Linked DNA regions of Homo sapiens. The protein of the gene in region 1 purifies or fractionates together with the protein of each later gene. This does not show direct contact. Each region holds a gene or a part of one and is shown on either strand. Other genes may lie near its edges. The genes, in order: NLRP4 and SUGT1.

Evidence for each region.
Region 2: the proteins of NLRP4 (region 1) and SUGT1 purify together in Homo sapiens (affinity purification with western blotting; 2 studies listed by BioGRID and IntAct, with this or other methods). This does not show direct contact.

Annotation. Positions count from the first base shown.
Region 1 is NC_000019.10:55,863,759-55,880,655, reverse strand, and holds part of NLRP4 (NACHT, LRR and PYD domains-containing protein 4), read right to left. Parts: intron 12,948-16,897; coding exon 12,780-12,947; intron 9,830-12,779; coding exon 9,659-9,829; intron 3,661-9,658; coding exon 3,490-3,660; intron 1,863-3,489; coding exon 1,692-1,862; intron 1-1,691.
Region 2 is NC_000013.11:52,659,490-52,676,386, reverse strand, and holds part of SUGT1 (protein SGT1 homolog), read right to left. Parts: intron 14,913-16,897; coding exon of another isoform or gene 14,817-14,912; intron 13,739-14,816; coding exon 13,685-13,738; intron 13,292-13,684; coding exon 13,275-13,291; intron 12,353-13,274; coding exon 12,330-12,352; intron 10,751-12,329; coding exon 10,654-10,750; intron 9,576-10,653; coding exon 9,468-9,575; intron 158-9,467; coding exon 67-157; intron 1-66. UniProt on the Homo sapiens protein: May play a role in ubiquitination and subsequent proteasomal degradation of target proteins.

The DNA.
Region 1 (16,897 bases):
GCGTGCAACTGTCCCACACTGTTGGGGTAAGCTATGTTCTTTAGCACAACTATGTATCTTAATACACATCTTTGTGAGACTATCTATGGTAGGGGCTGGAGGAAGATGAAAACTCACTTATTTAGTTCTGCCATAGTTATCACATTATCTGATGCATACTTTCATAATTACCATGCCAAATAATCATCCCTATTTTGTAGATAGGAGGCTGATAATCAAAGAGGACAAATGCCTTACCCTGGCTTACAGGGCCAAACATGGCAAGGCTAGGAGACAAACACAGACCTCCGTGACTCAGAATGCAGACAATTTGAGTCCTTCCCCTTAATCACGTGTCTACTTTGGTAGTCTACATTCTGAATCTTTAGCAAACATTAAAATGAGAAAGAAACAATGCCAAGCACTCAGCCTTTCCAGGTGGAGATTTATAAGGATGGACTTCAAGAAAACAAACCTGTATCTTCACAAAATGGAAAAAAAAAAATCAGTGAATGTTCTTTAGCGTTAGAGTTATAACAGTTTTAACCCATTATATTTCCCTTTTCTGGAAATGAACAGCCTAATAACTGCCTATGATTACCTTCATCTCATATTGGTTTGAAAACAGTAGGGGAAAATGAATGAGAAAAATGTTAAGGACTCTATAGTTATCTAGTAAAATAATGTTTGTGGGATTATATGTAATTATAAATATAACAAATTAAAATATAAATTATGTTTATATAAGTTTCTATTTATAAATGTTATACTTATGAATATACATATAACTTGTATTTACACATAAATATTTAAAATATAAACATGTATCATAATTTGTATTATAATAATAAGTGATATAGGAGGTAAAAAATTATTTAGGCAGATAGTGAGGGCAAAAGTCCTCAGCAGAGCTTCCCTTCTAACAAAAACCAGCCCAAGAAATCATTTCTTTTCTAACAAAGAGCATCCTGAAAAACTGAGCTGCAAACATAAATAAGGGAGCGCGAAGATTGCATGGGGGGAATGCCAGCAGCTGCGCCAGTGAAAAGAGCTACCTGGGGGCCAGGCCTGTTCACCATGGAAGCACCATCTTCCCTTTTTTATTAGCATGGGTACAGTAAGAAAGAAATGGGCAACATAGTGCAGCTCAGGCAGAGAACCTGCCTGCTTAATAAAAGACTGGGGTGGGGGCTGCCAGAAATTCACACCCTATGCAAACGGCACACCTGGTCCTAACCAGTTTTTCATGCCCTATGTAGATCAGACACCACACCTCCCACCAGCTCGTCTATAAAACCCTCTGCATTTCACCATGGATCGGGCAATCCATTTTTCCGAGACCCCTCTCTGTAGCAGACAGCTCTTCTTTCTTTTGCCTATTAAACTTCTGCTCTTAACCTCACTCTTTGTGTATCTGCGTCCTTGGATCTCTGCGTCCTTGGATCTCCACGGCCCTGGGACAATGAACCTCGGGTGTTACCCCAGACAATGAGGCCACTTCACAAGTGTTTCCATTTGTTGGACATTCACTGTTCACCACTTACTGTGGTAAGAGTTTTATACTCACCTGCTTGGTTCTTACTCCTGCAACAACCCTGAGACAAGGAACATCATTTGCATTTTAAATGCAACGTGATTACACTGCAGGTCCCAGCCAATCCCTTCTTAGCCCGGAGCACTCTGCCCATAGAGCACAACAGACCCCAGCTCACCCGAGCACCTGCAGGGCACACTCTGGGTGTCTCAGGGCCTCACAGAGTACAACCACCCCTGTGTGGTCCAAGGTGTTCAAGGTCAGGTTGAGCTGCTGCAGGGTCTTACTGCAGGTGAGAACAGACGCGAGATCCTTACAGCAGGTGCTCGTTAACCCACATTCTTCCAACCTGCAATAAAAAGACACATGGTAAGATGCGGCCCCAGCCTCAGGGTGGAGGTAGGATGGGATGTGAGCTAGACGTCTAGTTGAGGCACACCCCATTGCCTCAAGTGCAATCTCTCACAGTCCAGTGTTTACGACCTCAGATCACGCGTCTGTGGGTAGGTGGTAAAAGTAGCCATAAGTGTCCATTCTTCTCTGTATCCCTGCCCACAGCAATGTGACTTTGCAGCTCATTCCACTAACAGAGTCTATTTCCGGCTTCATACCTTGCTTTGGATAATATAACATATTATCCAAAAAAAGGTATGAAGCCGTCTCAGATAACAATGGAAGCAAGATTAGGAGAGTTCTGAGCCACCATTTTGGGTGTTTTTCTTCTTTGGAGATGGGGTCTCTGTCATCCTGGCTGAAGTGCAGCAGCATGACCATGGCTCACTGCAGCCTTGACCTGCTGGGTTCTAGCAATTTTCCTGCCTCAGCCTCCTGAGTAGCTGGGACTACAGGCATGCACCACGCCTGCGGGCTAATTTTTGTGGAGATGGGGTTTCTGTCATCCCGGCTGAAGTGCAGTGGCATGATCATGGCTCATTGCAGCCTTGACCTCCTGGGTTCTAGCAATTTTCCTTCCTCAGCCTCCTGAGTAACTGGGGCTACAGGCATGCACCACGCCTGGCTAATTTTTATGGAGATGGGGTTTTACCATGTTGCCCAGCCTGTTCTTGAACTCCTAGCCTCAAGCTATTGGCTTGCCTCAGGCTCCTTTAGTGCTGGGACTGCAGGACTAAGCTATCACACCTGGTGATCTTGGATGTTTTCTATACTTCATCTCTTGAACTCCTGAGATGCTGCTATGGGCTCATTTCTGTCCCTGCCAAAATTTATACGTTGAAGTCCTAAACCCCAGTACCCCAAAATGTGATCATATTTGGATACAAGGTCTTTATAGAGGCAATTAAGCTAAAATGAGGACACTGGGGGGATTCTAATCATATGACTGGTGTTCTTATAAGAGGAAATTTAGACACACACACACAGAGGGAAGAGAACATGAAGACACAGGGAGAAGACAGATGGTTATCGACAAGACAAGAAGGGCCTGAAGCAGATTCTCCCTCATGGCCTTCAGAAGGAGCCAACTCTGCTGACACTTTGATCTCAGACTTTCAGCCTCCATAACCGTGAAGTGATAAATTCATTACCTAAGCCACCCAGTCCATGCTACTTTTTAAACCCTGGCAAACTGATACAGATGCCATGTCAATGAGCCCAGGCCAACCAGTTAGATAATGAGACGTGGCCCAGTTACACCTGTCATCCCCAAGGGGACAGCCAACCCAGCCAGCCAACCTCCATACCATATAGCAAGGTCAACCCAAACCAGCCAATCCCTCAGTTAACCACAGCTTCCTAAGCACACCTGGCTGAGGTCAGTGACGCCTGCCCAGACAAGCAGAGCCAGCAGCAATCTAACTTCTCATTGCCTTAAGCCCTGAAGTTTTACACTGGTTCATGATGCAACCACAGCTAGCTGCTATGTGGTCCTGTTGGAGTTTTCATCTTTCTCTTTCTTCCCATCCATTTTCCGTCTTTGCCACTCATGAAAACATAACCAGGAGCTTGGCGATACCCACCCAAGAATCTCTAAGCGGCAATCCGTATGCGTCAGAGCCCGACACAACAGCTGCACACCCACATCTCCGATTTCATTGCACCCAATTTGCAGAATCTTCAGGTTTTGATTGCTGATGAGAGCAGAGGCGAGGTCTTCACAGCCAGCAGCAGTGATAAAACATTTTACCAAACTGCAAAGGAGTAAGGGTACCATGCTTAAAGGCTATTACACCTCAGTCTAATATCAGGAAAAGAGACACCAAAGCACGACAGCCTTTGTCATTCATGTGGATAGGCACCGTCAGTCCTCCATATCCACAGATTCAACTAGTGGCAGATTGAAATTATTGAAGAATTAAAACAATAACACATAACACGCAACACTAAAAAATACAAACGAAAAAACCAATAGAGTATAACAACTGTTCACACAACATTTACATTGTATTACATATCACAGTAACTTAGAGATGATTTACAGTATTATGGGAAGATGCCTGTACATTATATGCAAACACTATATAGGCCAGATGCGGTGGCTCATGCGTGTAATCCCAGCAGTTCGGGAGGCTGAGGTGGGTGGATCACCTGAGGTCAGAAGTTCCAGACCAGCCTGGCCAAAATGGTGAAACCCTCATCTCTACTAAAAAAAACACAAAAAATACAAAAAATTAGCCGGGCATGGCGATGCGTGCCTGTAGTCCCAGCTACCCAGGAGGTTGAGGCACAAGAATCACTTGAACTCGGGAAGCAGAGATTGCAGTGAGCTGAGATCGCACCACTGCACTCCAGCCTGGGCGACAAAGTGAGAGACTGTCTCAAAACACACACTATGCCATTTTACATTAGGAACTTGAGCATCTACAGATTTTGGACTCCTCAGGGGAAATCTGTAGCCAACCTCCTATGGATATGGAGGGACAACTGAATTGTCTCAGCATCGTTTGTTGGAGGTCTATCCTCTCTCTGCACCAGTGATACGCTATTCCATGATGCGACATCTGAACACACGTGGATCAGTCTGTTTCTGAGATCTCTATTCTGTGTCTCTGGTCTGTCTGCTTATCCCTGTGTGAATCTCATGCTTTTTTAATTTCTAAAACTTTAGATGACACATTTAGAGCAAGAGTTCCTACATTATTTTTATTTGAGACGGAGTTTCACTCCTGTTGTCCAGGCTGGAATGCAACGGCACAATCTCAGCTCACTGCAACCTCTGCCTCACGGGTTCAGGTGATTCTCCTGCCTCAGCCTCCTGAGTAGCTGGTATTACAGGCATCCACCATCATACCCAGCTAATTCTGTATTTTTTTTTTTTTCAGTAGAGACGGGGTTTCACTATGTTGGTCAAGCTGGTCTTGAACTCCTGACCTCAGGTGATCCACCCACCTGAGCCTCCCAAAGTGCTGAGATTACAGGCGTGAGCCACCGCGCCTGGCCCACTTTTTATATTTTAGGTGTTTCTTAGGTATTCTTGGCCTCTTGCAAGTTCCATACACATTTTAAAATTTACTTTTCAAGTTCAACTCAATCACCAAACAAAAACATCGCATTTTCACTGGGATTTCATGAAAGCAAATGAATTCAACTTACAGAAAACTGACTTTTTAGATACTGAATATTTCAATCTTTGAATATAACATTGTTTTATACCATAATTTGATCATATTCTCTATAAAAGTCTCACATATATCACAGTAGCTATTTCTAGGTAATTTCTTTTTTATGTTACTGTAAAAGGTACTTTTATTTAATTCCACTAGCTTATTACTTCTTGTTGGTATATCAGTAACTGTTTTTGATATATTGTTTCAAGCAAGCTTGTTAGACTAATTCTGATAACTTAGCTACAGATTTTCTTGGATTTTTCTATGTACATTCAAATCATCTGTATAGAATTAGGTGTTTCTTCAAAGATTACAGGTTTAGTGTTTTTCTTACCTTGAAGCATTTGCTAAGATTTTCAGGACACTGTTGACTAGAAGTGATTATAGCCACCGTTCTTATCTTTTTCATGATATTGAAGAGAAAGCTTTTCTCTCATCATTAGACAAATGTTTGCTTTAGATTTTTTTGAACATATTCTTTAGATCATCAAGGAAGTTCCCAAATAGTTTTTCAAGAATTGTATGTCTTAATTCAAACTTTTCTGCATTTTAGATCATGATTTTTATTTTTAACCAGTAAAGTGATTTACATTGATTTTTTTACTAATCTTTTTAATGTTAAAGCAACTTTACATTTTGGGGATAAGCCCAACTTAGTCATTATGTTTATTCTTTTAATACATTTATGGATTCTGCTTGCTAATATTCTGTTCAGTGTTTTTGCATTTCATGAATGACACTAGCCTTTAATTCTGCTTTCTTACAAAAATTGTAAGGATTATATTACAACCAATAAAATTCTTATTGGTTTCTGGCATCAAGATTATGCTAGCCACAAAAAATGGTGGGGAGTTTCTCCTCTTCTGATCCTGAAAAAGCTGATGTAAGAGTGGAATTATTTATTCTTTGAATGTCTGGTAAGAATCACCAATGAAGGCTTCTAAGCCTGGAATTTTCTATATAAAAAGATTTGACTGATTCATTTTTCTTTTGTCTTGAGTACATTTAGGTTCTATCATTTTAGAAGCTTATTGAGTCTTGAAAATATCTAAATTTTCAAGTTTATTGTGTAAAGTTGCTCATATGTAATCTTTTTAATATCTGTAGCATCTGTAGTAATGTTTCTTTTCCCATTCTTGACATAGACCTGCACTCTTCAGTGTGATAGCCAGCCACGTGTGACCACTGAGCACTTGGAATGTAGCTTGTCTGAATCTAGATGTGCCATAGTATAAAATACATAGTGAACCTTAGAGAGTTAATACAAAAAAGTAAAATCTCTCATTAGTAATTTTTTGTACTGATTACATATTGAAGTGATGTTTGATATATGGCTAAATAAACTATATTATTAAAATTAGTTTCAAATATTTACTTATAAAATTACTTTCAAATATTACATCACTTTTAATATGGCTACTTGAAAATTTAATATTACATGTGTGGCTTGCATTATATTCTATAGGATGGCATTAACAAAAACTGTTTTTTCCAAGAACCACCCTGCAGGTTTCTGATCTTTTCCATTGTGATTTTTGTTTCATTAGTTTCTGTCCTTATTTTTATTTCCTTCCATCCTTTAGGGGGTTTATTTTACCATTAAAAAAATCCTTAAGTTCATTATTCTTTAGATTCCTTTTAAAATATATACATGCACTACAGCTCCATCTGAGTTTGTTGCAAAGTATATTCCTTTTTCATTTCAACATATGTTCTAATTTCCATTATGATTTCTCTTAGATTCCTGGACTCTATATGGGAAGTAATTATGTTCACCTTGTAAGATTTAAAGTTCAACTGAGTAGGAAGATAATTTAAAAATTAGCATGAACCGAATAATACTTTGTCTTAAATTCTATTTTGTCTGATTCATACAGTTGCGTAAGCTTCCTTTTAATATTTGCGTGGTCTTTTTTTCTATCCTTTCATTTTCATCATTTTATTGAGGTAAAATTTACTTAAGATTAACTATATTAAAGTGAACAGTTCAGTGGCACTTACTACAGTTCACAATGTTGTACAACCACAACCTCACGTTTTAATAAGTAACTTATAAACATTAGTTACGTTTTAATATGGCAATCTTTTAGCTGAAACATTTAATCTGTTCGTTTAATTACTAGCATATTTGAATTCAAATATATATCTTGTTTCATATTTTCTTACCTGTTCAATTTTTGTTTCCTTGTTCTTTTTTGGATCGGGAATTTTTTAATCATTCTGTCTCCTCTTTTCTGCTAATTTGAGTATTCACCTTAATTTACCCCTTTATATTTTGTTATGGCTGTTGTATATTTTTTCCATTAAATCTTCAAGATGGTATTATTTTTATACACAATCCACATTTTGTTTAGATTTATCCAGAGATCTACCCCTCTCTTTGCTCTATCTCTCTTCCATCTGGAATGATTTACTTCTGTCTAAGGAACAGTCTTTAGAATTACTTTTAGGAAGGATCTGGTGGTAAGAAACTTGGTATTTATTTGAAAATGTGTTTTTATCCTCATTCTTGATAGTTTTTGGTGGCTATAGAATTCTAGGTTGACAATCCACCCTCCCGTCTCCCCGCCATACTGAATATCTCACTGTACTGCCCTCTGGTTTCCACTATTACTCTTCACCCAAGTCTGTCTCCTTTCTTGTAGATATCACTTTCCCCCGCCCCAAGCTCCCAGCCCCTTGTTAAATCTTTACAGACCAACATCTTTATATCTGGTGTTCTGCAGTTTCTCCACTATTTATCCTGTTAAGCGCTTATTTGGATGCTTGAATCTGAATTGGAATCTTTCATTGGTTACAGAAAAATTTCAGTCTTCTTAAAATATTTTCTCTTTCCGCGATTCCCAGTAAGTGTGTTAGAACATCTTAATCATCTAAGTCTTATACCCTCTTCTATGATTTACCTATTTTTCTGTTTTCATGCTGCTTTCTAGGTAATTGTAACCTATCTTCCATTTTACTAATTTTTTCTTTAATTATGTCTAATCTACTATTCACCCCATATAGTCAGTTATTATATTTATAATTTCTAGTTGTATTATTTGCTCATTTCATCTCCTTTTCCCTAAGATTCAAACTTGTTATTTTTCTGTAAACATAGTAAGTATAATAGCTTTATAGATAATTAGATAGTTTGGTAGCTGTTTGTATTTTGACTTGTCCTTGGCTCAATGAGCTTTATTTCCTTGTGGGTTGGGTTATTTTAACTGTGTGGTATTTACTGACCTTAAAAAATCCTTTTAGGAATAAGCTGAGGTCAAGGATCATGTCATCCTATTACCTACCTCCTGAGACAATTTGCTCTTGTTTCTTTCAGGCATCTGTTCAGTACTAGTTTAAGGTTATGTTGTGTTTTTTTAATACGTCTTAAGGAGTTTTGGATAGCCTTAAGTGCTATCTACTTAGCCTGCTACTTAAGAATATTTCTGTTTGGGCTGGGCACGGTGGCTCATGCCTGTAATCCCAGCACTTTGGGAGGCCGAGGCGGGCGGATCACGAGATCAGGAGATTGAGACCATCCTGGCTAGCACAGTGAAACCCCGTCTCTACTAAAAATACAAAAAAATTAGCCAGGCGTGGTGGCGGGCACCTGTAGTCCCAGCTACTTGGGAGGCTGAGACGAGAATGGCGTGAACCCGGGAGGCAGCACTTGCAGTGAGCCGAGATTGTGCCACTGTACTTCAGCGTGGGCTGACAGAGCGAGACTCTTCTGTCTCCAAAAAAAAAAAAAAAAGATTATTTCTGTTTAGCTTCTAGATGCTTTTAAATTTTTTCTTAATATTGTATCTGATGTTTTTGGTGTCTTTCAGTGCCAACGATTGGCCCAGATAGCCTAACGCACTACTGGGAGAGAAAGAATGCATCTGGTGTTTTTGTTATGTTATTTAACATACTCTTCAAGTGAGGAATACAAAATCCTAAACTGATTTCCTAATGGATTAGGTAAAAATCACGCTGCCAGATTTCAGAAGCCTCTGTATTTTTCAGGGAAAATACATAACAACATGTTATCCTAACTGGTAATTCTAAAAACACTGCCACCGCCGCTACAGGGGTTACCCAGATATTTCTCTATTTGATAACATGAAATTAAGTCTTTTCACCATCTCCTTTCTGGCTCATCTCATGCTACCCTTTGTCTTCTTCTAAAGCATTCTCTGTTACACACATTAATTCTCACGTGTATTTTTGGATCTCCCACCTTCACGTTTTACCCTTCTACCTGGAATTTTGGCTTTATTTTTGCACCTGATGAAGTGCATTCATTTTGTAGAACACACACCAAATATCATCTTCGCCATGAAATTGCCCCTCAGGTCCCGACCTAATTCCGGCTCTCTCAGTCCTCTACCTATATGCCACTGGAGAACTCTTTGCAACATATTAAATCCATGCCACAGAAGTCAGGGTGCTGATTTGTTTACATGAACGTCTCGACAAGAATCTGAAGCAAGTATTTTTTAAACCTTCACATGCCCAGGCACAGACACTACAGCCTTCCTCAATTCCAGATGCCCCATTCTCAGCAGTGCATGCCCTTGAAAAGACGGCTTGGTCTTCAAAGAAACAGCAAAAAGCCTACCACAGTGAATCCAGGCAGCAGTCCGGATGTTTCAAGGCCTCGCAGAGAGTTTTCAGTCCTTCGTCCTTCAGGACATTGGCACTGAGGTCTAGATAGCGCACGCTCTTGTTACGCAGAAGCATTTCAGAGATGTATTCGCAGCACTGCTCGCTGAGGTGGCAGAAAGCCAACCTATGGGGACAAAAACACGAGAAGGAGAGTGAAGAGGGACGTGGTGTCTCAGGGAGATTTGCTTAATTTCACATTCAGGGTAATATTTCTATAATCTTACAAACTCCCCAGCTGAGATGAAGTTCTGGATTATCTGAAAACACCTCCTCTCATTTATTCTTTTGAGATGGAGTTTTGCTGTCGTCGCCCGGGCTGGAATGCAACGGCGCGATCTTGGCTCACTGCAACCTCCACCTCCCAGGTTCAAGTGATTCTCTTGCCTTAGCCTCCCAAGTAGCTGAGATTACAGGCACCCACAACCACATCTCGCTAATTTTTGCATTTTTAGTAGAGACGGGGTTTCACCATGTTAGCCAGGCTAGTCTCGAACTCCGGACCTCAGGTGATCTGCCCACCTCGGCCTCCCAAAGTGCTGGGATTACAAGGCGTGAGCCACCGCGTCCGGCCCTCTCATTTCTTCTTAGTTGCATGATAGAAGAATTAGAAAATAAGAGGGTAATGCAGAAGGAAAAAGTATCGTGTAATATGGCATAGCTAATACTCTAACAGGGCTTTAATTTTGGTTCTAATTCTTCATCTGATGATGTCCTTGGACAAGACATGGACCTTCTGAGACCGCTCCCTCAGGGACTGGTAAAGTGTATTGATTACCTCATGTGTAGAATCCCCAACTTTTTCAATTTCATTATTCTTTAAAATCACAGTAGGTTCAAAACTTTTTTTTTTTTGGAGACAGGGTATGGCTCTGTCACCTAGGCTGGAGTGCAGTGGCATGATCACAGCTCACTGCAGCCTCTACCTCCCTGGCTCAAGGGATCCTCCCACCTCAGCACCTCAGTCTTCTGAGTAGCTGAGACTACAGGTGCGTGCCACCACACCAAGCTAATTTTTGTATTTTTTTGTCAAGAAAGGGTTTCATCATGGTGCCCAGGCTGGTCTTGAACTCCTGGGCTCAAACAATTCACCTGCCTTGACGTCCCAAAGTGTTGGGAATATAGGTGTGAGCCTCCAATCCCAGCCAGTTTATGAATTTTTTTTTTTTAAGGATCCATGTTGACTTTGAAAAAAAAGTGTGGAGTAGAGAAAAACAAAAAAGCAGACGGTGCAAGCTAGTGATGAACGAACCACATATGGCCTACGGATATTTAGATTTCCTGGCATTTTTATGTTTAACAAAATCAGTTGGCAATATATAACCATCAGTAAAATTGTATGTAAAATCTAGATTTCAACCTCTGTTGAAAACTGGGATATCTGGCAATAATGAGCCGCATTCCCACATGGAAATCCAACAGGCTAGGACAGAACGGGCAACTGCTTCCTGTTGACAGACACAAGATCTGCATTTCCACGGAGGCCTCACCCAGCTTGCTTCTCTCACGGATCTCAATTTTCTGGCATATCCAGGCATTTGTGGACTTTGTTGTTTTTTGTTTTTTTTTTGGTTTATTTTTTGTTTTTTTTTGAGACAGTCTTGCTCTTTCACCCAGGCTGAAGTGTGGTGGTGCGATCTCGGCTCACTGCAACCTCTGCCTCCCAGGTTCAAGCGATTCTCCAGCCTCAGCTTCCCTCGAGAGTAGCTGGGACTACAGGTATGCACCACCAAACCCAGCTAATTTTTGTATTTTGTATTTTTAGTAGAGACGGGGTTTCACCAACTCACAGAGTCTACCAACTTCCATCTGGGTTCCCCTTCCTGAACTGCATCCTGAAATCTCTCTCCAGATAGTTACCTGGGACAATTCTAGGACTCACCTGTTTGTCCCTTATCACTCAGGCACCACTGTCCTTCATTGCCTGATGTCTGAAGTCTTAAACAGTTGTTTTATTTAGTTGGTTATTTTTGGTTGTTTTAGGTGGGAGGTTAAGTCCTGTCCCTGTCCCTCTATTTTAGCTCGAGGTATAAATCCTCTCATTTTCTTGACATTTTCAGAATACTCTTACTTTCATGTTGTTCATATTTCAAAATGCCCAAAAGTATAAAGAGGGAAAAATCTCCATCCTCCCCTATCTCCCAGCTTCTCAGTTCTATTTCTCACAGGCAGCCTATATTATAATACTATTTCTTCCAGTGATATTTGTGTATTTAAAAAATAGACACACTCGAGACCAGCCTGACCAACGTGGAGAAACCCCATCTCTACTAAAAATACAAAATTAGCCAGGCATGGTGGCGCATGCCTGTAATCTCAGCTACTTGGGAGACTGAGGCAGGGGAATTGCTTGAACCCAGGAGGCAGAGGTTGCGATAAGCCAAGATCATGCCACTGCACTCTAGCCTGGGCAACAAGAGCAAAACTCAAAACTCAAAAAAAAAAAAAAAGACACAAATGCATATATATTCTCCTGTCCTCTCCCCTTTTGTATAAGTATCACCTAAAGGTATTAGAATTCCATTAATAGGTAAATCAATTGGCCTTTAACACTTACTCATCTGTCTTCCTTCTGTGTTTTACGTACCCTAAAACTGGCTTGAATAGCCTCTTCTCATCCTATTACTGCAAGAACATCACATGTATTATAGTATTAACTGGGGTCAAGAGGCCCATAGACATTTTTCCCCGCTACTGTCCTGAGTACCCACCAAGTCTATTCTACATGCTCGAAATAACCGTTATCAACACGGGAAGTACCATGTGTGTTGCAGGTGCATTAACCCAACCTAACAGCTTTGAAACACAGTACGTGTTCTGTATAGACAGTCTCACTTGATAGCCATAAGACCTCTAAGACAGGATTTTCCTCTGCTTCTAAGTTAAATATTTTGCTTAAGAAGACAGTATATACGTGATAAATCCTGAACTAGAACTCAAGTCTTTTCTGATTCTTAAGCGTGAGCTTTTAAACCTCCGCTATGTGGCCTCCATCAATGAGCAGACTGTCATCAATAGGCCCAGGTTTGAACTGCCGCCATGGCCCTCCACAGTAGGCACCCCCAACATCCACTCACATCAGGTATACCAGGACCGTGTCTGGGCTGCACAGGGCTTCACACAAAAGGGGCACGCCTGTGTCTAACTGGTTGCAGGATACATTCAGATACGTCAGCTTCTTGTTGTTGGTTAGAAGGCCAGCAAGGACTTCACAATCAATGGGTGAGAGGTGACAATTTACCAGCCTGCAGGAAAGGGAAAATGTCACATTCTGTTGGTTTCTAGTTCCTGGACTCATTCCTCTTGCCAATCCTGTCAGAGTCGGGAAGCCCACATTTGCTGTCCTTGAGAGGCTCACTGCCTCCCAACCCTGTTCTTGATCCCTGTCAACCCAGTCTCTGGGGTACAGAGACAGCCAACCTGAGATGCACAGTCTCAGTTATATGCATGCTTGGCTTACGGTCTCTGGGGTACAGAGACAGCCAACCTGAGATGCACCATCTCAGTTATACGTATGCTTGGCTTACGGTCTCTGGGGTACAGAGACAGCCAACCTGAGACACACAGTCTCAGTTATATGCATGCTTGGCTTACAGTCTCTAGGGTACAGAGACAGCCAACCTGAGACACAGTCTCAGTTACATGCACACTTGGCTTACGGTCTCTGGGGTACAGAGACAGCCAACCTGAGACGCACCATCTGTTATATGCATGCTTGACTTATGGCCTCCGGGGTACAGAGACAGCCAACCTGATATGCACTGTCTCAGTTATATGCATGCTTGGCTTATGGTCTCTGGGGTACAGAGACAGCCAACCTGAGATGCACCGTCTCAGTTATATGCATGCTTGGCTTATGGTCTCTGGGGTACAGAGACAGCCAACCTGAGATGCACCGTCTCAGTTATATGCATGCTTGGCTTACGGTCTCTGGGGTACAGAGACAGCCAACCTGAGACGCACAGTGTCAGTTATATGCATGCTTGGCTTAGCCTCCCCCAGTAACTTATCTCACTGCACTTGGAGAAAATCCCAAAATATACAACATGATCCACAAGGGTCCTACCCATTCCCAAGTCCCCATGTCCCAGCCACCCTGGTTCTTTTTCAGTTGCTTGACAACACAGGTTTCATTCTCTAAGATATTATTCATGTTTGATCCTCCCCAAACTCGTGTCTAGTGGCTCCTTTACTCAACTTGGGCTATTTTGCATGTGTGCCCGCCAAGTGGAATGCTCTTTTTCTGGCCTGTGGTTAGATGCATCTTTATCATTCAGGTCTCTGCTCAAGTAATATCTCCTCAAAGAACATGGAAGAAGCCTTGAACCCGAGTCCCCTAGGACTCCTTTTTTGGTGGCTTGAGTTGATTTGTGTTGCCTCACAACTGTGTGGTTTAACTGTGTGGTTTTCTATTACCTCAACCACTCTCCTTACCTCTGGTTGCCACAAAAAATAAGCTCAGAGACAACAGAATAAAGATGAAAGCCATTATGGGAGTTGTCCAGAAATAAATGTGGAATTGGCAAGTCACCGAGTCCATGGCTCCTCACGCCTCTGCAGCAGGGCTCTGAGGCCATGCATGCTTTTAATGTTCTTTCTAGATTTAAGATATAGGTTGGTGCGGCCGGGCGTGGTGGCTCAAGCCTGTAATTCCAGCACTTTGGGAGGCCAAGGAGGGCGGAACATGAGGTCAAGAGATCAAGGCCATCCTGACCAGCATGGTGAAACCCCATCTCTACTAAAAATACAAAAATTAGCTGGGCATGGTGGTGGGCACCTGTAGTCCCAGCTACTCAGGAGGCTGAGGCAGAAGAATCACTTGAACCCAGGAGGCGGAGGTTTTAGTGAACTGAGATTGTACCACTGCACTCCAGCCTGGGTGACAGAGTGAGACTCATCTCAAATTTGGGGGAAAAAAAAAGAAAAGAAAACAAAGAAGTTAATCTTAATGAATTTGGGTTAGGCAATGGTTTCGTAGCAATTGCACCAAAAGCACATGAGACAAAAGAAAAAAATAAAGTGCATCTCATCAGATTAGAAGCTTTTGTGCTTCAAAGGACACCATTAAGAAAGTGAAACGACAACTCACAGAATGGCAAAAAATATTCACAAAGTACGTCTCGTATATAACTTGTAATCAGAAAACATAAAGAACACTTACAACTTGACAAAAAGGCAAAAAATCCAATTAAAAATGTGCAAAGGTGTTGCCAACAACCATATGAAGAAATGCTCATTAATCATTAGAAAAATGCATATCAAAACTGCAATGAGATACCATCTCACACAGGTCAGAATGGCTATTATTAAAAAAAGTCAAGAAATAATATATGCTGGTGAGGTTGCAGAGAAAAGTGTACACTTACACATTTTTGTAGGAATGTAAATTAGTTCAGCCATTATGGAAAGCAGTTTGGCAATTTCTGAAAGAACTTCAAACACAACTACCATCAAACCCAGCAATCCCATTATTGGGTATATACCCAAAGGAATATAAATCATTGTACTATAAAGACACCTGCACTTGTATGCTCATCACAGCACTATTCACCTAAATACCCATCAACAGTGGGCTAGATAAAGAAAATGTGATACATATACACCATGGAATACTATGCAGCCATAAAAAAGAGTAAGATGATGTCCTTTGTAGCAACATGGATGGAGCTGGAGGCCATTATCCTTAGCAAACTAACACAGGAACATAAATCCAAATATCACATGTTCTCACTTATAAGTGGACGCTAAACACTGAGTACATATAGACATGAAGAAAAGGACAACAGACACCAGGGCCTACTTGAGAGCAGAGGGTGGGAAGAAGGTGGGGAAGAAAAATCTACCTATCAGGTACTATGCTTATTAACGGGTGACGAAATAATTTGTACACCAAACTTCCATGACGTGCCATTTACTTTTATAATAAACCTGTACCCCTGAATGTAAAATAAAAGTTTTTTAAAATGTTGTTTAAATGTTAAAATTTTTAAATGTTTAAAAACCTGTACCCCTGAATGTAAAATAAAAGTTTTTAAAAATGTGTGAAGGACTTGAATATATATTTCTCCAAAGAAGATATAGAAATGATCAAAAAGCACAGGAAAAGATGCTCATCATTAGTCATTCAGGAAAAGCAAATCAAAACCACAATGAGATGCTCCTTCACATCTACTAGGATGGGTATAATAAAAAATAAGTAAATATAAGTAATAATAAAATATAAGTAAATAAGTAAAAAATAAGCAAAGATGTGGAGAAATTAGAACTCTCATACATTGCTGGTAGGAATACAGAATTGTGCAGTCACTGAGGAAAATAACTTGGTGGTTTCTCTAACAGTTAAATATGGATTTACTATATGACCTAGCAAGTCTACTCCTGGTTACAAGTCCAAAAGGATTGAAAGCAGGTGTTCACACATGAGTGTTCATAGAGCACTATTCAGAATAGCTAAAAGGTGGTAACAACCCAAGTGTTCATCACTAGAGGACTAGAAGAACAAAATGGGGAATATCTACACAGTGGAATACTATTTAGCCAAGAAAAGGAATGAAGTACTGATACATGGTACAATTTGGATAAACCTTGAAAACATTTTGCTAAGTGAAAGTAAGCCATTCGCAAAAGACCACATGTGATTCAACTTACATGAGACGCCTGGGATAGGAAAATCCAATAGGACTGAAAGTATGTTAGTAATTCCCAGGGACCAGAGAGATAAGGGAGTGAGGAGTGAATGCTAATGGGTATGGGGTTTCTTTCTGAGGTAATGAGAACATTCTAAAATCAGTCATGATGGTTGTACTTCCTCATGAATATATATGAGGATCACTAAACTGTACATTTTAAAGCATAGTTATACTTTAAAAGTATTTCTTAAAATATATGAAGTACATACTTTAAAAGTATATGTTTTGTGGTATGTGGATATCACAATAAAGTTGTTATTTTTTAAAAAAGGGTTTGGGTCTTTTTGTGTTCGGTTGATGCAAGCTCAGAAAAATGGCCAACAAAGACTAGTATAGAGAAGTATTTGAATGTGTGGGTACCAATGAAGGTAAGTAGAGGGTAAGTATTTACAGGAAACCCTTATTTAATTGCAAAAATAAAAATGCTTGAATTAAAACATACATACTGGAAAGTACACACAATGGTTAAGTGCCAGCCAACGCACTGTCATGAATTTAAGGCACTT
Region 2 (16,897 bases), on another chromosome or scaffold:
TTACTATTTAATTTCAATTACACAACACAATATGAATATAAAGCTCATCAAGGCCAGAAAACAAACCTGCTACGAATTGTTTTGGCGTAGGCACATCTCCTTGCCCCTCTAGCTTTTCCCATCTCACAGCCTCTGGCTTTTTCAGTTTAATTTCAATCTGGAGGAAACACCAAATAAACTCCATTACTCGACGTAAAATACACAAAACAGTAAAAAATGCAGTTTTCTTAAGTCATCAAAGTTTTGTTAAGAATAGTATCTTTGACAGTTTCCTTAAATTATACAAGGTTAAATTTGAAAAACTATGAAACAATTTTGTTTCTACACTCAAAATTCACCCTTGAAAAAAAACAACATACACACTATATATAAGCTATAATCAAGAAGAGACTTGAAATACATATGCTTTTTTTCATCCAAAGCAATGTTCTGAACCAGGGATGATTCTGCCACCCAGGGGACATTTAGCCATGTCTGGAGACATTGTGGGTTGTCATACTGCAGTGAGGGAAGAGGTGATAATGACATCTATTGAGTAGAGACCACGGTTGCTACTAAACATCCTACAATGTACTGGGCAATTCCCCAAAATGTCAATAATGCCATTACAGAGAAATCTGATTCTAAAAGAATTACTGCATTTACATGTGCATTAACCTGTTTTACAGTGGAGAAACTTATTTCACTGTATAAACACAATACAACTCATGTTAACATTCAGGCAATCTTTCATTCAACAAATAATTACTAAGCACCTACTATGAGACAGTACAGTCTTCAAGGCTGTGGGAGATTTTTGTTTTATTTTTAGAGACAGGGTCTTGCTCTGTCTCCCAGGCTGGAGTGCAGTAGAAGGATCATAGCTCACTCTAGACTTGAACTCCTGGGCTCAAGTGATCCTCCAGCCTCAGCTTCCCAAGTAGCTGGGACTACAGACAAGTGCCACCACTCCTGGCTAATGTTTTTAAAATTTTTCGTAGAGACAGAGTCTCACTAGGTTGCCCAGGCTGGTCTCAGACTCCTGGCCTCAAGCCATTCTCCCACCTCAGCCTCCCAAAGTGCTAGGATTACAGGCATGAGCCACCAAGCCCAGGTGGATTTTTAAAATATTAAAGACACATCCTCGACCATTTGGAAGTATGTGAGATACTTTAAGAAAGTTACTGAAGTTCTAAATAAGTAAATGTTCTAAAAGCTCAGGAGAGAGCACACCTGACTGTGAAGGGGAAACGCTTTATACATCTTGAAGGGCTCTGAAGGGTAGAAGCATTTGCAAGAGTGAAGGGGTAGGTCTCCAGAGCATAGGGAATGGCCTAACTGGAGCATGGGTATGAAAGGACACTGCATCGGGGAGTACTGAGAAGACTAAGTTCACTTACTTACCGAGAAGACTAAGTTCACTTATTAAAATGAAAAGTTAATAGTATCCTAATAGCATCTTTTACTATCTAATTAAGGCTAGGCCTCTGAGTCTATCCTTGCCCCCAACACACACAATCACATAGCATTTTATCTACCTTTTGTTTTCTTTATTCAAATAATGCTCTCACCTCTATTTTAACAGGCTAATATCAGCATTTTTAGTGCAAATATTAAAGTAAGCACTATAATAAACATTATATAAAACAGTTTAAATGAGCAATTGAATTAGAATTTTATATTCTCATGTTTTTTTCCTATGAAAAGGATCACTACTTTTGTAAATGGGATTAAAAAATCAAAAGGCAGACTTAAAAAAAGAAGTCTATTCACCCTTTGGTTCTTTTATCTTTTATCAGATGACTCATTAAACTAGCAATTCCAGGCCATCTTTATACCAAATGCATTTAGCAAAAGGACCTTCAAAATTTGCACCTTAAAATACCTTAACAAGCGCTAACACAGGGAAAAACTGCCAATATTTTTAATCAGAGATAAAATGATGGTATATGTATGTGGGGTATCTGGTCTCAAGCGTTTATTTTTATTTTCTTTTGGAGCAAAGAAATGTAATAAACGACTGTTTTCATAATAAGAGAAAAATATGAAGCAAACGTCACTGGGATAAGGGCAAAGAGTAGTAACCCCAGCACCTTAGGAGGCCGAGGCAGGCAGATCACCTGAGGTCAGGAGTTCAAGACCAGCCCGGCCAACATGGCAAAACCCTGTCTCTACTAAAAATACAAAAAATAGCCAGGCATAGTGGCATGTGACTGTAGTCTCAGCTACTCGGGAGTCTGAGACAGAATTGCTTGAATCTGGGAGGCGGAGGCTGCAGTGAGCCAAGATCGTGCCACTGCACTTCAGCCTGGGCAACAGAGCGAGACTCTGTCAAAAAAAAAAAAAAAAAAAAAGTATACTATCTTTGGTGTAATTTACATGTTTAAACTCTACATATATAAAAACATATTTCATAAGAATCTCTAGAATTCCCTAAAGTTAACTACAATTAATTTTTTATAAAGTAATATACCACCAATATCTTCTATATTCTGGTTACTTTAAGTTGTCACTGCTACGATATTTATCAAAAGGGACATAAATCAAATAGATGGCAATGACACAGCAATAGTTACTGAAAAGAACTGTTAATATTATCTGAAAAATTAAAATTGCATCTTCTTTAATTTTCAACTCATCTAAAAAATGAGGGCCTGGAAAGTACTGTGTACATCACCACATTAAACTTGGCCACAGGCCACCCTATATTCACACTTCATGTTCCTGTAACTATGAACATACTGTCTATAAAAAGTTCCTTGTTTCACCTGAAGAGCAGCACAGAGTAGCATTCGCATCTACTGAAAGCCACTATAACCTGAGTAACTGTGCAGTATGAACAAAGAGGACTTTATAAAGCAAAAGGCAAAGCTCTTAGTAACAACCTGCTTCAGCTGAGACAAGCTGACCTCAACTTGAAATTATACTTAATCCATTCATTAAAATAGCTGCATGTAATAAACCACTTAAAGTAGCTTTTTTAAAAAGGTAAAAGGGGCCAGGTGTGTTGGCTCACACGTGTAATCCTGGCACTCTGGGAGGCTGAAGTGGGAGGATCACATGAGCCCAAGAGGTTGAGGCCACAGTGGGCCATGATCACTCCACTGCACTCCAGCATGGGCAACAGAGTGAGACCCTATCTACCCCCACACAAAAAAAAAAAAAGTAAAAGAAGGGAGGGACTAATGTCCTATGAAATCCTTTTTACATTTAATTCACTTTCAATGTTTGTACATGCTTTTAAAAATGAAGTTTTAAGTCTTCATGATTCGGGCAGATAGTTCTAGAATTAGCACCAGTCCAATTTCAGAGGTTTTTACTGCAACCATTAACATACCATTCTATTTTCATTTAAGTCAAAAAAACTTTAAAAGTAACTTAAAACTTTGGTAGTTTGCTTGAATGTTGCTCTCATATGTACAGGGAAGGCTCTCAAGTTGCTAATATCCCAAAAGAGTATTCACAGATTACACTAAGAATCCCTAATGTGCTGGATCATTAGCTCTCAACAGCATAGGTACTACCATCCACTTCTGAAGTCTCCTCTGCATAGCAGAGAGTTTAATTCTTTCCAATGAAAGAAATTTCAGATTTAAAGAGATGGCATTACGCTTAAGCAATCATGATATCCAGACACCACCATCTTAAGTGGTAAGTAAGATCCCACCTACTATTACAGACTGACATGAAGGGATCTTTCCCAGAGACTAAAGAGCTGGGGCAATTTATTGGCAAACTTTTAAGAACCATACACTTCAAGACTGTACTCATTAAATAATTGTTCCCCTAATCTTCAGAATACAGCCTTCCCAACATACTCTTACTAAGCTCTTTTCACATTTAATTGCTACATCAAATTCCTTTGTCTGAAAATAGCTGCCTTCGAGCCCAGACTAATACATCTACCTTGATTTTACACTAAAATATTTCTATAATCATTTTTTAAATGCAAAAAAATGGCAATGAATGGAGAAGATTGAAGGTCTTCTCCAAACTTCTAACAGCTCATTTCAAATATTTGCTGAGTACCTACTCTGTGCCAGAAACAGTGCTGGTACATAAGGACACAGCCTCTGTTCTTCTTAAAGTAATTAATCAGGAGAGACATTCCCATAAACAAAAAGATTCCAGTATGTGTCAGGTGTAGTGACTGACCTATGTATCAGGAAATATCAGGTTATCTGAAAGGAAACATGCTAGAATGTCATCTGAGTGGTGAGTCTGAGTGATTACTTCCTAAACTCCTTTATCTTTTCCAGATTTTCTATGATAACGCATTTGCTGAGTTTACAGCCCGAATAAAAATCGAAATAACTAAAATAAAACAGTAAGAAAGGTACTGTAACATTTATTGAGCTCTTATTACATATCCTGCATGCTACATGCTTCACATATATCATCTTACTTAACGGAATCACCCTATTAAAAAAGATTGTTATCCATATTTTAGAGATGTGGGAGCCAAGATATGAAATAATTTGCTGTAAGCGCATTTTTCAGCTAGAATTTTAACTTATTTCCTAAGAAATAACCAGGGGTTGAGAATAACACAAAAACAATCAGTTGTATAGTTAGAAGAGTCACAAATAGGTGCCATTGGTTAGATATATGACCATAAGCAAGCAACTCAATCTCAGCGAGCCTCAGTTTCTCCTATAAAATGAGAACAGTAGGCCCTGACTCATTTAGGGTTCTCAAGAAGATTAAATGACACTATGTATGAAAAGAATAAAGAACCACGTCTGGCAAATAACAACAGAATGCTATTATCAATATCCTCAGCTAAAAAACCTGGGCAAATTATTGAACATCTCTGGGTTAAGTTTCTCTACCTGTAAACTAGGGATAAAAATACCTACACCATGCAGTAACTATGAGAATTACATGAGATAATTCATAGTACAGTGCCTGGAATGTGATAAAACAGTCAAAACACCTATTCTTATTCTCCACAGGTCAAACAAAATGGGACTGGCTAAATAAGCTACAGTACATGCATATGCCGAAATACTTTGCTGTTGAATATGTAAGGATGTGATAAAAATATCAACAAAATGTAGCTGTTTAAAAATTATGTAAAATTCTTTTAAAAATATATAAATATACATTACAAAATATATGAAAAGATAAGAATACATTCCAAGATCTACAATTTGTGATCTTTTTTTAAACTAATTCAGTTAAAAAAGAAATCTCACTATTATCACCACCACTGTACTAAAAAAGCAAAAGAAAACAATAATTTTAAAAACTCTCATATCTATGTATTCAGACAAGCAGAAGGAAGCATCATGCCCAGATACCCCATTCCATTATATTATCACCAGGATTTTTATTTAACATACATATATTCTTCTATGAACATTAAGCAATAGGATACGCTCTAAAACTTCTCAAAGTGGGAGAAGAGAAAAGGAGGCTATTTTGTTTCTAAGACAGACATTTTTATTTCTCACAATTCCAGGCCTTCGTATTTTATATTGTATAATCAGCAAAATTACTATGACTTAACTATGACTTAAGAATACAAGAACATTTCCACAAGGGCAAATTCACCCCAAAAGACTGAGAATTCTAATTCTTTTTTTTCTTTTGGAGACGGAGTCTCACTCAGTCACCCAGGCGGGAGTGCAGTGGCGCGACATGATCTCGGCTCACTGCAACCTCCGCCTCCCAGGTTCAAGCGATTCTCCTGCCTCAGTCTCCCGAGTAGCTGGGACTACAGGCACCCGTCACCACGTCCAGTTCATTTTTTGTATTTTTAGTAGAGACAGGTTTTCACCAAGTTGACCAGGCTGTTCTCGAACTCTTGACCTCAAGTGATCCGACCGCCTTGGCCTACCAAAGTGTTGGGATTACAGGCATGACCCACCGTGCCCGACTTGTGAATTCTAAATCTTAAAGGGAATGAAAATTAATTTTTAAAATGAGTATTTCACAATATGGGTGCCACTAAAGTCACAATTCTGAGACTGTGACCAGAGAATAGTGTCATGAAATCAACAAGATGAAAGACATATAGTTTCTTAATTTCTAAAAAATTAATAGGCTGACATTAAAGCTGATATTCAGTAAAAAGTAGCAATAACTATCAGAGATACTGAAAAAATATGAATCCTGGCTTGGAAAAACATATTGGATACTACACTGTAAAATAGTTAAGAAATGCTACTTCATTAATTTCAGGGTTTTACCTCTTACTACTTTCATCACAAATTACATATCACTCAAATAAATAATATTTAACCACTGGCTATACATGGATATGCAACATTCATTCAATCTTGAAGGTGGGAAAGAAAAGAGAATTCCCAAAAGCAAAGAAATCGCCCTTTTAAGCTGCAAATTTTACAGAATCTCTACTATTAAGCAGATTCTCCTCTGCAAAATGCGTCCTTTCTCAATTCACAAAGGTCCAAGATATCTCAACAATCAAGATATCTGAATACATGAAAAGCAAATTATTTTAGTACTGTTGTCTCTTAAGTGTCCACGAAGTAAGCCTCAGTAACCCAGATATTTTATTTTCAGTATTTTAATATTGTCTCCCTCTACTGTATGAAAAAGGAAATTCAAAGATTTTATCATTTATTTCCCTTAAGACATAATTAAGAAAACTTCTTTCAATTTGCTTCCCCCCAAATAGTTTAAGAGTTAGTAATCTAACAAGATTTTGTGTGTGCACATATATATATATATGGTATATAAAATACAGAGATTCCAGGGTCAGGACAAGAAAAATAATAATTCTTTAGGACACATCCTTAGAATCTAAGTTCTCCAATTCAAAACTTAGAAAAACCTAAGCAAAGATGCACTAGTTTGGTTGGCAATCAGAAGTGTATCTACGTCTCCTAGGCCAGGCTGAAGAATTTAGTTAACTAGGTAAACTTGGGGAAAGTATTTAAACTCCATTAACATGATTGTTTTTCCACCTGCAAAACTAAGAATAAACATTCTCTGCCAATGTCATGGGACTAAAACCAAAATCCAATTTTAATTCATTCACTGAACTAAGCACCCACTGTGCAATGTATGTGGTGAGGGCTGCCAAGTTTAGCAAATAAAATTATAGCATGAAACATATTTACATAATAAAAATTATTCATTGTTTATCTTAAATAGAAACTTAAATGAACATCTTGTAACTTTATCTGGGGACCCTAACTGGGGCACATACAAAGATACAAATAAAACATGCTTCTTATCCTCAAAGACTTACACAGAAACGAGGGACATGAAATGTATACATAAACTACTATATAAGGAAGAAAAGTCGTCACTTAGCATTTAAAGAGGAAGGGGCAGAAAAGGCAAACTGAGAACATAGTAGTATGGTTGAAGAATGGTTAAAATTAACAAATCCAAGACTCAAAAGAGAAAAAAGAATTGAGATAAGAGTGCTTAATTACATCCTCAACTCTAGCCACACATCTATGTATTTACCACACATGATATTCTTCCACTATAGGAGGTGGCTCAGTAATACAAGTTCTTAAGTCATTTATCATTAATTCACACTCAATTTAAATAACTCCAAATGGACATGCATTAACAATCTTTTTTTTTTTTTTTTTGAGACAGAGTCTCACTCTGTTGCCCAGGCTGGAGTGCAACGTAGTGATCTCAGCTCACTTGCATTAGCAATCTCGATAGACATATACCAAAAAAAGTCAAATTCATTATTTTATGAACTATATCCCTCTCAAATCTACCTATTTTGTGCTTGATTACTAAAAATTCTTTTATTAAACAAATTCTATACTATGTGGATAGGACCAGTGAGAGACCAAAATCCTGGTAAGATTTCATCCCTTTCCTCACTTTCTATTGTCCCAAGCAGCTATTTCAAAAATCTGCCTCATAATTAACCAGCTTTGTTCTTGACAATCTTCAAATAAGTAGGCAGATCCTTTTTAACTGGATGCAAAAAACTACTTCACTTTACACTTTCTTCTCCAACCCTCTGCAGCTGTGTCCTTTCTGCAGGCCCAATTATCATTCTTCACAACACAGGCCAACCCCGATCCTGTTCCACAACAGGAAACTTCACATGTCCTTAGAGCTTCAACCTAATAAATACTAACACAGTATGCTGCAGGACCTATGTATAAAAAAAGGAGTAATAGGCCAGGTGCAGTGGCTCACACCTGTAATCCCAGCAGTTTGGGAGGCCAAGGTGGGCAGATCACGTGGTCAGGAGATCAAGACCATCCTGGCCAATATGGTGAAACCCCATCTCTACAAAAATACAAAAATTAGCTGGGCGTGGCAGTACATGACTGTAATCCCAGCTACTCAGGAGGCTGAGGCAGGAGAATCACTTGAACCTGATTCAAGAAGGCGGAGGTTGCAGTGAGCTGAGATCACAGCACTGCACTCCACCCTGGCAACAGAGCTAGACTACATCTCAAAAACAAGGAAAAAAAAAAAAAGTAGTAATGGAAAAAGCCTACCTACATCATTTATTCCCATTAACTCATTTATCATATACCTTCACACAATTCTACAGCTGAAAGGACTCCAGAGTTCATTTGGTCCACAGCCCTCCTTTCAAAGGTGCTGAAAATTCAGTCTTATAGTCATTTTGTGCCTAGACTAAATACACAGGGCAAGCAAAGATCCAGAGTCAGATTTTTAAATTTTCAGTTTTTTTCCTACTAAATTACACTATTATCTACATCTTTTGAGTGATACTCTCTGAATATTAATTCTGTTGTATATCTCTACTTCTTTTAGAAACTATAAAGGAATCTAAAAATTACTCAAACTATAATTTACTCATTGTTCCCTCATAATAGAGTAATCTAAAATTCAGTTTAAAAAAAAAAGTCAGGAGTTGGAGACCTGCCTGGCCAATATGGTGAAACCCCATCTCTACTAAAAATACAAAAATTAAGCAGGGCGTGGTGGTGCATGCCTGTAGTCCCAGCTACTTGGGAGGCTGAAGCAGGAGAATCACTTGGATCCAGGAGGCAGAGGTTGCAGTGAGCCGAGATCACGCCACTGCACTCCAGCCTGGGCAACAAAGCAAGACTCCGTCTCAACAACAACAACAAAAAAAACAAAAGGCAGATTCATCTTTCTTGTAGTTTGTATTTTTAACTGCATGAGGTAGGGTGACAAAAGTATTTGTACATCAAAACAGACAAAACTGACAAGTTCAAGGGAAGAGACATTGTCAGTATCAAATCTTAAAGACAGGCTGATTATTGTATCTTTTTAAAAAAACCCCTTTATTGAAAAACATTATATCTGTCTTAGTAAATACACAAATGCCACACACTCTAAGTGGATTTTTATTCTTTACTGTACTAGAATTTGAGAGGTAAAATAACCCTTATACTCAAAAGTTATCATTCTTATTTTCTTGTCCCTGTTAAAGGGCTGAAAGAATCTACAAGCTTATAAACACATGGGTGATTAGTTCACCAGTATTTCTATAATTTTGAAAATATTACTAGTAACAAACTTTTCAATGGTCTTACCTTTGTTGAAAGTACTTTAAACGTGCTCTGTTCTGGTATTATAGGATGAAGAAGTTCCAGTTTCAAATTGTAATCCTCTCCAGAAGGAAGTTTAACCAAAGCAGACAACTAATGAACACAAAATTAGCATCACATTTTGTAAATGTATATAATGGAGGGTAAAAAACCTACACAAAATAATGACAAATCTTCAATAATGTTACAAATTATTTTAAACATTATATATGGAATTTTAGATTTAAGAACCTCAAAAGGTTCTCAAAGATTTAAGAACCTTTTTTTTCCATCTGGTATCCTTGACATGAATTCTTATAGACATCATTAAACAGCAGAAAAGAATAAGTTTCATAATATTTGTCATATATTTAATCACACCTATTTGATATTTAGATTTCAAGAAAACATACAAAAGCAAAATGATATATAACAAAAAGTGATCCATGTGCAAAACATACAGTTCTATCACTACCTCTTTTAAATAATCTATTATAAGGTTCTCTACTAAATGGTAAGAAATCAAGTTGTTAAAAGTCATACTCAAGAGGCTGGGCACGGTGGTGCATGCCTCTAATCCCAGCACTTTGGGAGGCTGAGATGGGTAGATCACTTGAGGTCAGGAATTCGACAACAGCCTGGCCAACATGGTGAAACCCCGTTTCTACAAAAATTAGCCAGGCACGGTGGCATGTGCCTGTAGTCCCAACTACTCAGGAGGCTGAGGCAGGAGAATTGTTTGAACCCAGGAGGAGGAGGCTGCAGTGAGCCGAAATTGCGCCACTGCACTCCAGCCTACGCAAGAGCGAGACTCTGTCTCAAAAAACAACAACAAAAAAAGTCATACTCATTTAACATGGCTAGTCAATTCTAAGACATGTGTGATCACAAAACTAACTAGATCTTTTTCATGAAGTACACCACACAAGTATAACCAAAGCACATTATCTTACTAATATAACCAAATTCTGCTTTAAATTTCAAATCTAAAGAAAAAAATGCACATCCAGCTATAATTTACCAACATACATATTCTTACCTCAAAGCAATGGCTTCAGATTTTATTCAACATTTTCCAAATCATCTCAGGAAGAAATAGCATTTATCTGATAAACCGTTATCGATTATTCTGCAATATACTAAATTTGCAAATAATAGTAATCAACATTGAAAAATGATTCAGTCTACTGACCTCTTTTTCTGAAAATTCCACATTTACATCATTCTTCTGAACATTCTTGATCATAAGTGTAATGACTACTTGAGATTCTGTTTGATACCAGTCATACCTATTAAAAAAAAAAAAGAAACTTAGGTAACTCTTCTAATTTTTTTAAAGCTATTGTCAAAACAAAAACTAGTCTGATAAACAACAAGAGCCCCACCTGGAGGAAGAAAACAGCAAAGCAACTACTGATTCACAGAAACAACTTTATATAACTAGTTTTTTATGCTCTGTACTAATGGAAAAAAATGGTAAGGTAAATGATGCTCACACCTTTCCAGTAGACTTAAATACTTGCATGATTTTCTGGGTTCTGACTCATCTCTAGCACTGTTGTGCTTAAACTAATATAAATATTAAAGATGTCATTTATTTTAAACAAGCTAATATTTATATGCCATCAATAGAGTTTTTATACTCTCATTTCATCCAAATACTACAGATAAACACTTAAATCCCTATTTTACAGATGATAAAACTTAAGCTCAGAAAGGTGAAGCAATAAGCCTGAGTCAACACTCCAAGCTCTCAAAACTGATGTTGGAAGCAGATAGACTTGAGCACACAAAACAGGGGCAAATGAACTAAAATTAAAATCATATGAAGTTTAACTGTGTCAGGCACAACATCATATACAACACTTTCCTTCAATTTCAAGATACATGGAAAGACTAATGGGTCTAGATTCTAATTATGTGCATCTTTTGTACTGAAAGCTCTAGAAACGTAGGAATCCTCACTTTCAAATTAGACTAGATTAAAAGCTCTCTGAGGGCAGAGCTGTTTATCCTGTCGCTATTATATCCCTAGGACCAAGCACAGTGTCCGGTACACGTATATTAAGTTAGATGTGGGATTATTTTATGCTCTGAACACCTTAATTATTATTTCATGGTTATGTGCCCTACCCCTGCTGCTGCCACCAGGGCAAGTCAAAGTTCCTTATCTACTAGGTACTTGGAGTTTCATCCTGTATCTCCCCACAACTACCATGAATAGATGGTTTTTAACTTTTCCAGGCCATTTTAGGTAATTATATCCAAAACCACCTTGATTAAAGAAATGAACTTTAAGAGTCTCGGTTTCCCTTTGCAATTCAGTAAGGATGCAAAGCTCCAGATCAACGGCTTGTGTTTCTGTTACGGTCCTAAGAATACAAGCTGTACACAGGCTAATGAATAATTAAAAGTCAAAGACTTGCTAGTTGCTTATTCATTATTATAATTGCTGCCCTCAGCAATATTAACTTTCAACGCATACAGAATGTTCCTATGAAAAATTTGCTCCAAATATAAAAGGCAGGTTAAGTTACAATTCTGTTAGATCTACTACTAACTTGTTTACCTGTGTAGTAACATAAACTTAACTGGAAGAGACTCTCCTTAACATATGGAAAGGTAACATAATATGAAACCAAGTGAAGCAACTTTAAAGATGAGAAATGATTTGAATTTAACTGAAGTACAAATATTAATCCTTAAACAGCCTTAAAATTGGCTTTACATAAAGCTATTACACAATTTTAGAAAACAAACAAAAACTTAAAAATCACATGGTAAGAATTTGCTTACTATTAAACTACAGGGTTTCTTCCTCTTTAGGCATATTTATCATGCATTGTTTTATGAAAAAGAAACACTCACTTGATTTTTGACTGATGAGTCCACTGGGATGCAGATTGATTTTGGTAAGTTGAAAGAGAAAGATTTTTACAAGTCAGTTTAGCAACTGTATTATTAAAATGCATGTATTATTAATTTACCCAACACTGCAGTTATTTTGATATAAAATAACTACATGAAAATTTTCTTCAAAGACATAGTAACTGTAATTGTTAAATACCACTAGTTTTCGGAAAAAAATTAGAATGCTCAGCATTTAAAAAATCTTAGATTGAATTTCATAAAAGATTTTTGCTCTAAAATAACAGAACTTTAAATAACAGAAAACTTCTAAAGGCATGATTAGAAAAGGTTGCTTATATAAAATGGCCAGTTCTAAGATTCAGCAACTTCCTAAACTAAAATAACATTGTTTTAAAAATCGTTTTAAAGAAACAGAGTAATTAGCCAGGCTTGGTGGTGTACATCTGTAGTCCCAGCTACTTGGAAGGCTGAGGTGGGAAGATTGCTTGAGCCCAGGAGTTTGAAGCTCAAGTGCACTATGATGGCACCACTGCACTCCAGCCTGCATGACAGAGCAAGACCCTGTCAATTTCCAATTTTCTTTAACTTTTGTCTTAGCCTATCATAAAAAGCCCTACAAGTGATTCAAACTGTTGAACCTAAATAAATGCAATAAGGTTTTAGTAACGAAAAGATAAATGATCATCATGACCATATTAAAACACACGAAATCAACTTTAACCACACACTAAATTCATTAAAATAGGCCAATAATTTTCATGACTGGAAACTTCTATATTTATCAAAAAATGATTTTATTTCAGTGCCTAGAGGAACCAGCACTTAAATGGAATTGCTTAATATTTAAATATCAGACAGCTCATCCTGAGTCTTGTCTCAAATATATTTGGTAGCTGAAATTTAAAATAATAAAAACATGAAGAATGAAAACTTTGGACTTACCACCTCAGATTCTGAGCCTATTAAAACATAAAAAGGAAACATTTTCAGGGAACAGTGCATTTTTAAGCAAAGTTATTTGTATGATTTCTATAGCACAAACATACTGATTAAGCAAGCAAATTCTCCGTACCTTTCAACTAAAGAAAAGTGGTTTCATTTTGCATCCTGAATTCATTTTAGACTCCTTAGTAATTTCTTACTGATATACCATACAAGCAAATCCACCCAAATCCCCCTTTCAACATAAGAAGCTATGCAAAAACCAGTGTATCTTTGGAAGTCCACATCTAAGGAAACGTATACTATTTAAAAGAAATTATAAAGATAAAAACAAATTTGTTTAAACCAAAAAAATTTCAGATGTTTACTTCTTTTTAAATTGAAACAAATACCAAGGGAGACCCACATACCATTCTGAGCTTCTTGACACCTTTTAATCCAGACACTGAAATTAGCATCTGCACCTAGAAAGAAAAAACTGACTATAACATCACTCATCTGCACAACCTATAAATCAACAAATACTTACTGAATACCTACTACATCCCAGGCAGTGTTCTAGGCACTGGGGAGTCGGCAGCGAACAAAACCTGTCTTAACAGACCTTATCACCAACTCTACTATAGTTATAAATATACCAATAGTTTAACATTTAGTTGTTAATCATGAAACATTTTGATTTTTTAAAAATTTTAACTACAGTCAACCTTAATTTCACAGATACAAATAATCTGCATTTCCCCCAATCCCGCTGCTCTTAGAGAAGCTTCCTCACACACAGAACAAAATCAGATGTAAATCAGACTCCCAATATGCCATCAGTTAGGGTGGGGAGGAGGCTTGGTAACTGGGAGCTGAGTTGAGGTTCAAAAGCCGTTCCCAGCCCCAGCTTGCTCTTCAATGCAGATACCTATTCAGTCCACTATTCTCTCAGTGGCTTTATCTGTTACCATGCCTTTCCTACCAACACCAAGCATCTTTAAATTCCGTGAAGTTTTGTCCTATCTCCAAGTTACATGGCAGTCGAGAGGCTATAGGTGATGTATTATATATTTATAGATAACAGTGTAAATGTATGCATAAACAAATTATTCACTTCTGGAGACACAGAACAATGATTACATTTAAACAGTCACAGTGCATAGTAAGATATGTTAAAAGTATTAAAAGTACTCTAAATAAGAGCTTATTAATTCAAGTTAACTGCAGACAAGATAAATTTGAAAATCTTAAATTAAAAATTTCTTAACAAAAATTTCTACTTTACTAATTTATAAAAGAAATCCAACTATACCAGCATTAATAAAAAATTTAAATACACTCTCACACACACTGTATTCTAGAGAACTATTGTATCAAAATCTATTATATCAAAAAGATTTGAGTAACCTATTATTTTAAGTAATCAGTAACTAAAACCAAGCAATTTATCACACAAAGAGGGGAAAAGGTAACAATTCTTTACCCTGTCTGATAAAAATAGAAGCCTAAAAGTTTAACTTAACTTTTTCCCAGATTTTGGCCGGGCATGGTGGCTCATACCTGTAATCCCAGCACTTTGGGAGTCCAAGGCAGGTGGATCACTTGAGGTCAAGAGTTGGAGACCAGCCTGGCCAACACGATGAAACCCCGTCTCTACTAAAAATACAAAAATTAGCCAGGCTTGGTGGTGCATGCCTGTAGTCCCAGCTGCTCAGGAGGTTGAGGCAGGAGAATCACCTGAACTTGAGAGACAGAGAACTGCACTATGGCCTGGACAACACAGTGAGACTCAGTCTCAAAAAAAGAAACAAACAAACAAACAAACAAAAACAAAAAAAAACCCCAAAAAACAACAACAAAAAAAGTTTCCTGGATTTAAAGACAAATTTATTTTTAAGTAAAATATCCTCAACAGCAATTTTACCAAACAGGTCTTCCTCTGAAGGCCACCTCTGAAATAACTAAAGAATAAATGTCAATGGCATGATATTAAGATATTACTCAAGAAAATAATCTAGGGGCCAGACGCAGTGGCTCATGCCTGTAACCCCAGCACTTTCAGAGGCCGAGGCAGGCAGAACGCTTGAGTCCAGGAGTTCAAGACCAGCCTGGGCAACATGGCAAATCCCCATCTCTGCAAAAAATAAAATGCAAAAATTAGTCAGGTGTGGTGGCATGTGCCTGTAGCCCCAGTTACTCAGGAGGCTGAGGTGGGAGGATCACTTGAGCCCAAGAGGTGGAGGCTGCAGTGACCCAAGATCGCACCACTGCACTCCAGCCTGGGCGACAGAGCGAGACCTTCTCTCGCTAAAAAAAGAAAGAAAAATGAAAATGTAGAGAATGGTATGACTCATGTTTCTTCAGGATTTTCACATTAGGTACCAAGGCACTACATAACTTCACTCTAGAATTTGCTAAGAGTGCAGATGTCCTGTTTGCTGACTGAATAGGCCTACTATTCACATACCAAAACTGGGATAAGCAAGTTTGAGAATAAGCCTTATCACCCAGACCTCTCCTTTTTTAATTTGTAGCTTCCATTTGCATAATCAGTGCTAAAATCCTTTTTTCTGAATAGGTACACAACAGAAAGGCAAACATTCAAAACAGTACAGAGTAAGAATGTAACATAAAATACTAAGAGTGAAGTTTCTTAATTTCAGCACTACTGACATTTTGGACCATATACTTCTTTGTTAGGCAGAACTGTCCTGGGCATTATAGAATATTTAGTAGCACCCCTGGTTTATACTCATTAGATGTCAGTAGCACAACCCCCATCCACCATTCATGATTATCAAAAATCTCTTCAGACATTGCATAAAGTTTCCTGGGAAGCAAAACCGTTTCCAGTTAAGAACCACTTCTTTAGAGAACTGTGATAAAACTCTATCATAACATAAAGATAAAATGATAATACAAGTAGGATTATGTAGTCTCCAATTTTCTGAAATTACTCACAACCTCTTAGTATTTTTCAGATTTAAAAATTCTTGGCTCTCGGCTGGGTGCAGTGGCTCATGCCTGTAATCCCAGCACTTTGGGAGGCCGAGGAGGGTGGATCACAAGGTCAGGAGATTGAGACCATCCTGGCTAACATGGTGAAACCCCATCTCTACTAAAAATACAAAAAAATTGGCCGGGCGTGGTGGTGGTCGCCTGTAGTCCCAGCTACTCGGGGGGCTGAGGCAGAAGAATGGCGTGAACCCGGGAGGCAGAGCTTGCAGTGAGTCGAGATCGCGCCACTGCACTCCAGCCTGGGCGACAGAGTGAGACTCCGTCTCAAAAAAAAAAAAAAAAAAAAAAAAAAAAAAAATATATATATATATATATATATATATTCTTGACTCTCACAATTTCTATATGTCTAGATATCCACACCACTGTGATACTTTTCATATATTCCCTCAAGAATATAACATTAAAAGTCACAATACTCTCAAAACTGTGTTTCTTCTGTACCCTCTCATAATTTACCCAAACGTACACTTCACTTCTCCATAAAAACCTTTAATGTTAAGATTTCACATCTCAGCAATCTGAATAATTTAAAATGAACAGACTTCTGACCAAGGCAAATTAAACTTTCACTTCTCCATTAGAAAAAAACAAAGCCAGACTAAACAGAGAGAGCATGTTAG